Linked DNA regions of Homo sapiens: region 2 is linked to region 1. Evidence: fine-mapped expression QTL. A gene starts in region 1. The other region holds a variant in brackets. All regions are shown on one strand. Distances are from middle to middle.

What was found. PIP is the estimated chance that this variant, and not a neighbour inherited with it, causes the effect.
Region 2: its variant is fine-mapped to the expression of CAV2 in whole blood (INTERVAL, PIP 0.94).

Annotation. Positions count from the first base shown.
Region 1 is chr7:116,498,474-116,501,386 of GRCh38, forward strand. It overlaps CAV2 (caveolin 2), which reads left to right and starts at 1,265. Exons shown (of 3, transcript NM_001233.5): 1 at 1,265-1,458; 2 at 1,787-1,974. The coding sequence starts at 1,309. It overlaps CAV2-DT (CAV2 divergent transcript), which reads right to left and starts at 1,043. Exons shown (of 3, transcript NR_188012.1): 1 at 881-1,043. RefSeq lists enhancers at 280-781, 828-967 and a silencer at 1,148-1,237.
Region 2 is chr7:116,338,512-116,341,424 of GRCh38, forward strand. It overlaps LOC124900233 (a long non-coding RNA gene), which reads left to right. Exons shown (of 3, transcript XR_007060487.1): 2 at 1,312-1,408. Among named protein-coding and RNA genes, the nearest start is that of TES, 130 kb to the left of the region's middle. The variant G/C (reference allele first, on the strand shown) is at 1,259.

The DNA.
Region 1 (2,913 bases):
GCGTGAGTGGTCAGCAGGCTAATTCATCCATTGCAATGTGGCTTTGTGTTAGGGTTCTGTTTCCGTGCTGCCTGCAAGATAATCACAGATGTGACTGCATCTTAGAAGTTCCTGAATCTTTCAAGACAGTCTGGTTCACAAGAAAATTAAAAGGTGGAGGTCGGGCGCGGTGGCTCACGCCTGCAATCCCAGCACTTTGGGAGGCCGAGGCGGGCGGATCACCTGAGGTTGGGAGTTCGAAACCAGCCTGACCAACATGGGGAAACCCCGTCTCTGCTAAAAATACAAAATTAGCCAGGCGTGGTGGTGCATGCCTGTAATCCCAGCTACTCGGGAGGCTGAGGCAGGAGAATCGCTTGAACCCGGGAGGCAGAGGTTGCGATGAGCCGAGATCGTGCCATTGCACTCCAGCCTGGGCAACAAGAGCGAAACTCTGCCACACACACACAAACACACACACACACACACACACGGTGTAGTTTAGGAAGTAAAAAAAAAAAAAAAAAAAAAATCAGATCTCCCCTCACACCTCAGATCTGAAGGCACAAACTCTAGGGCCAGGGCGTTCGCCTACCCAACTCCACATGCACTTGCAGGTCACCTAGCACTCAGGTACCTAGCACTCAGGTACATTGTGGCTCCTTACCTCTCACGACAGCAGCAACAACGTTGATTGGAAGTTTATCACTGTGTGTTACGGGCCATGGGCCATGTGTGTTAGAATTTTATGTGAAATTAACATTTAATTCTCACGGACACCCCTGAAACAGATGCCACAGCCCCCATTTTGCCAACGAGGCAGCTGAGGTTCCCAGAGGCTCAATACCAGCACCATGAGCCGCAGCACGCAAGGCAAACACAGCCGGAGGTGAGCACATACCTGCTTCGCACCCCATGCGCCTAACCACAAGGTTCCCTCCCTCCAGGAAGGCCGTTGTCTTCCCTGGGACGACTTGCCAGCTCTGAGGCATGACAGTACGGGCCCCCAGAAGGGTGACCAGGAGGCCCTCCTCGTCCCAGCTGCCGGCGTCGCCGCCCACTGCAGGGCCCGGGCTGTGACTCGTGGGGACGGTTCCCTGCGCCCCGGCGGGGGAGGTGGGCGGGGAGGGGCGGCGGGGCGCCGGGGCGGGGCTCGGGACGGCCGGGCTGGGAGCTGGAGCCCACAGCGGGAAGCGGCCGCCGCCCGGGCCTCGCAGGGCTAGGCGAGGCGAGGGGGGGCGGGGCCGGGCGCTACGGGAAGGGGAGGCCGCGCGGACCGGGAGCCGCACCGCGCCAGCCGGGCTGCAGCGGCCGCGCACCAAGGCTGCGATGGGGCTGGAGACGGAGAAGGCGGACGTACAGCTCTTCATGGACGACGACTCCTACAGCCACCACAGCGGCCTCGAGTACGCCGACCCCGAGAAGTTCGCGGACTCGGACCAGGACCGGGATCCCCACCGGCTCAACTCGCATCTCAAGGTGAAGCCCGGGGCGGGCGGGCCCAAGTCCCCGCTGAGGCCGGGAGGTGCGGGCGCCCCTCAGCCCCGCCCTAACCCGTCCCACCATTGCTACCGGGTCGGCCCCGCAGGGTCTGAGACCCGCACCCTTCCCCGGTCCCACCCGTCACCAGGCCGCCCGCGTAGCCAGGAATTCTTAGCCAGGTTCCTGTGCGCCCACCGTGACCCTAAGAGAAGAGGCGGACGCCCTGGCACGTCCTTCCCTCCTGCTTCCCCCGCCCAAAGCGCTCCCGGTTCCCGGGGCGTCAGGTTGGCTGACAGTTCGGGGTCCCTGCGTCCTGTCTCCTCAGCTGGGCTTCGAGGATGTGATCGCAGAGCCGGTGACTACGCACTCCTTTGACAAAGTGTGGATCTGCAGCCATGCCCTCTTTGAAATCAGCAAATACGTAATGTACAAGTTCCTGACGGTGTTCCTGGCCATTCCCCTGGCCTTCATTGCGGGAATTCTCTTTGCCACCCTCAGCTGTCTGCACATCTGGTGAGACGGGGCACACCGGGTGGACCGGCTTTCTGAAACATGGGCATATTCTCCGCCACCTGCCCCCTACTCTCCTCTTATCCCAGGCCGGCGTCAGGAGGAGGAACGCGCATCAGTTCCCAAGCAGTAGGAAGAACTGGAAGGCCTTGAAAGGCAATGCGCTTCCTTTAGAATAACAGTTTGGGCTTGGAGTTTCAACAGGAGAAAGAATGTCGGTCTTTCCTGGGGTGTGATTTTCCTTGCATACATAAGGCTGGGCTGAGTGTGGAGGCGGGTACCTGGAAGCCACACTTCTTACCACAGGCTGCTCTCGGGGCCCTGTTGTGACTCGTACCTGCGGTTCTGGGCAGGACTCTTCTTTCTTTCATTGCCTTTTATTCAGTCACTGCCTGTGCTTGGGGTAAAACAAAAGTGATCTCTGAGCAGAATGCCGCTGACAGTAGAATTGGATGAGGATGTCAGACCTGGTTAAGCAGTAGTGTGGAGGGGCTGCTTCAACTTTGCCCCTGGCAGATGGCAAGGATGGGACCCAGAGGAAAGGGAGGTGTGTGCAGTTAAGGCGAGGGTCCCCCCCAGTACAAACGAATGAAAACTCCAGCTGCGGGATAATGAATGAGAAGGCCTCCAAATTACTTTTTCACTGATGAAACACAAATGGAAGTGGCATATAATTAAAGGGGAAAGAAATATGGAAGCCCACTGTATATTGATAGGATATTTTGAGTAACTCTATTCATACTCAAAATGTGTCCTAAACTGTAGAGAACTTTCTTAAGCATCTTTTAAATTTTTTATGGAAAATGTCATATTTTACCAATAAATGTTGTTGTGTTAGAAAATATCCACTTTAATCTGAGAGGAAGAATATTCAGATCATCCCCAGTATCACAACAGTTGTCACGCTAGTGCTTCAGGTTAGTCCTGGTGAAAGGTATAACC
Region 2 (2,913 bases), 160 kb before region 1:
TCCAGCACAGGTGCTCATGGTCTGCTGCTGGGGCCACGATGCATCTGTCTCATGCAGTCATATAGAGACCCAAGTTGATAGCTGTGATGTGTTCTCCAAAACATGGCTTTAGAGGTTGCCATGGAAATCAACATCCAACTGATGGAAGAGGCAAGAGAAAGGATGCAAAAACCACACCAGCTGTTTAATTACCTGGGTCCAGAAGTAACAGGTGCCACTACCTCTCACATTCTATTAGTGGAAATTAGTCACATGGCCTCTCCTAACTGCTAGTAAGTATAGAAAAGTTGGTTTTGGCTGGGCAGCCACAAGACAAAGCTACTAAGAAAGACATAGCATTAATTTTATGTTGTTAGCCATCTCTGCTATAAGCGTAAGTCAAATAGAATTTTCATTTTTCTTAAGTCTTTGAGAAAAACATTGGGACAAACATTAACTGGAATATTGATATCCATTAGGTATGAGCTTGATTGTTTCTAACTCATATTTCAAAATTACCAGATATAGCAATTCAGGGAAGAAGAAAAAGGTTTAAAGACTGTGACATTCAGACTGCTATATTCAATACAGAAAAGATATTTGGTGATATTTCTATCCCTTTTTCTTAAATGTACATTCTTCTGGGATTTAATAAAGTCACATTCTGATTTTTAAAAATAGTACTATTAATCTCACTATAGAGCTCTGAAAATAATAGAATCGTGCTGTTATATTACAGCAGTTATTGATTGTCCATTTTTTCCAAAGACACTGAGATCTATGGAAGAAATAAGCCTCATTATTTTTCATTTGTATTTAATGTAGATGCAACAAAAGTTATATACTTCTTTATTATATATTTTGTCATGCCTATTAAATGCCAGTTATATAAGATGATTCCTGATCCAAACACAGTGCTTTATGTTATTGGGATTAAAAGAATTAGTTAAAGCTTTAAGTTAAATTACTTTTGAATTCATTTATGGCTAGGTACACATGAAATAAACACTCTACATTGTCTACAGTGGTAATTGCCAAGAAAAAGAGTATATTTTAGTAACAATTTGGCTAAGCGCCTCAAATTCAAAGTAATTCCACATTTAAATACTAACACTCAAACCTGAAAGTTGTCTTTAAAAGCTTTATAAATTGTTTCTGGTGAGGGTTTTACGACTATGGGGTGGGTGGAAAGGGGAGGAAGGAAGAGGGACTGCCTCACTATAAGCTGATAACAAGGTTGCTAAAAATTGCTCTTATCAATGGTCTTTGCACTTAACTT[G/C]TTTAAATAAAAGAAAAAACTTCATGTGAGTCATCGTATTTTGTTCACTACAGCTTGGCAGGTCACCTTGTTCTAGCAGATAGAAACTGAATCAATATGGGAAGAGCCAGAATTTGGACAAGGTTCACCAAACATTCACACTGATGCCAGGTGGGCCAAGAAAAAGGGAATGTCCTGCCTCTGAGGTATCTAAAAATTTTTATGTTTAAGTCAAGGGTTTTGTGTTGTGAAGGCAGAGCTTTGAATTTCTAATAGAAGAAGAAAAGCAGAATATACCCAGAAACTCCTGATTAAATTTATGGTCCTCTAATAATATTTTAACTTTAAAGGAGTCAGACGGCATTCTAGAAAAGAGCCCTTTGGTCAATGCTTTCCTATCTATAGTTTAATCAACCCTTCCATATATGCACATATTAAGCAAATTCAAATGACATTAAAAATAAGTTACATTTCTTATTCTAACCCCTGCCATTCATCCCGCTTTCCCCCCATTGTCACACATATGCCCACTTCCACTTCTGCACATAGGAAGAAAGGGTGAATAAATGTCAGAATCAAGTGGAAAGATTAATCATAGGCTGTTTTTTACATTGTTTTATTCTGAGTCAGAATACGCTTTACAGGACATAGGCAAGCACTTGAAATATAGGACTCAGAACATAAGATGCTTCGTAGGACCCAGGCAAGCACAGCAATTAAATGGAATTCCACATTTTTAAGGAAAGCTTTTTACTTTTCTTCCTCTTTTTGTTTCTCTTTACTTTTGCAGCTCCCTTCAAAAGTCCTTTCTGTGAGACACATTTTTAACTACCATATTGTTCAATTTTAACAAGAGTTCAGGGTGAGGAAGGTTATAGCTGAGGCATTTACAAGGATTTCCTGTTTGTAGTGGCTGCTTTTTCCTCTTTGGTAATGTGTTTTTCACATTTTTTAAAAGCTGCCTGTATGCATTAATATTACTTAATCTCCATCACCTTAAGAAACCATATGGGGCAGGGAGAGGAAGACCGGTGCTGGCTCTTTCCCTTTCTCAATGACTTGAGACACCTTAACCTTGCTTAACTTTTTCTAGAAAATGAAGATAGTAACACCTGCTCTGAATTGTCACAGAATTATTGTAAGGCTCAAATAAAATCTATGTATTTAAGGAATCAATATGTAATAAAGATCTTGAAGTGTTAGTAGTCGATTATATCTGAGATACATTCGCCAATATCCAAGGGGGACAAAGAGAGCTCCATACCCCGGGGGAAATGTAGTCCACTGACAATTTGTCCACACAATTAGAATACAAAATAGCACCCTATGCCTCAACTTTTTTACAGTCAAAGAAAGCATGAGGCATAAATAGTCCTGAAGGGATGTGGAGTCTGTTTGCTCTGCATATGATTTGCATATGCTCCTCTGAAAAGTCACCGGGCAACCGAGTAATTGTACAGTAATGATGTGGTTAAAAAAACAGATTGATCTACTTTTATTATTATTGTTACAAAATAATACATATATTTTTAAAATTCAAACGATACTAAAAGTTACATTCCCTGTCCTACTCCCTGTCACTTATACCATTTCCCAGTTTCTGTTTTTAGTTCTGATGGTTTCCTTTTTGCTCTCCACTGTGACTGATATACATTTATACTTCTATTTTTTGATGA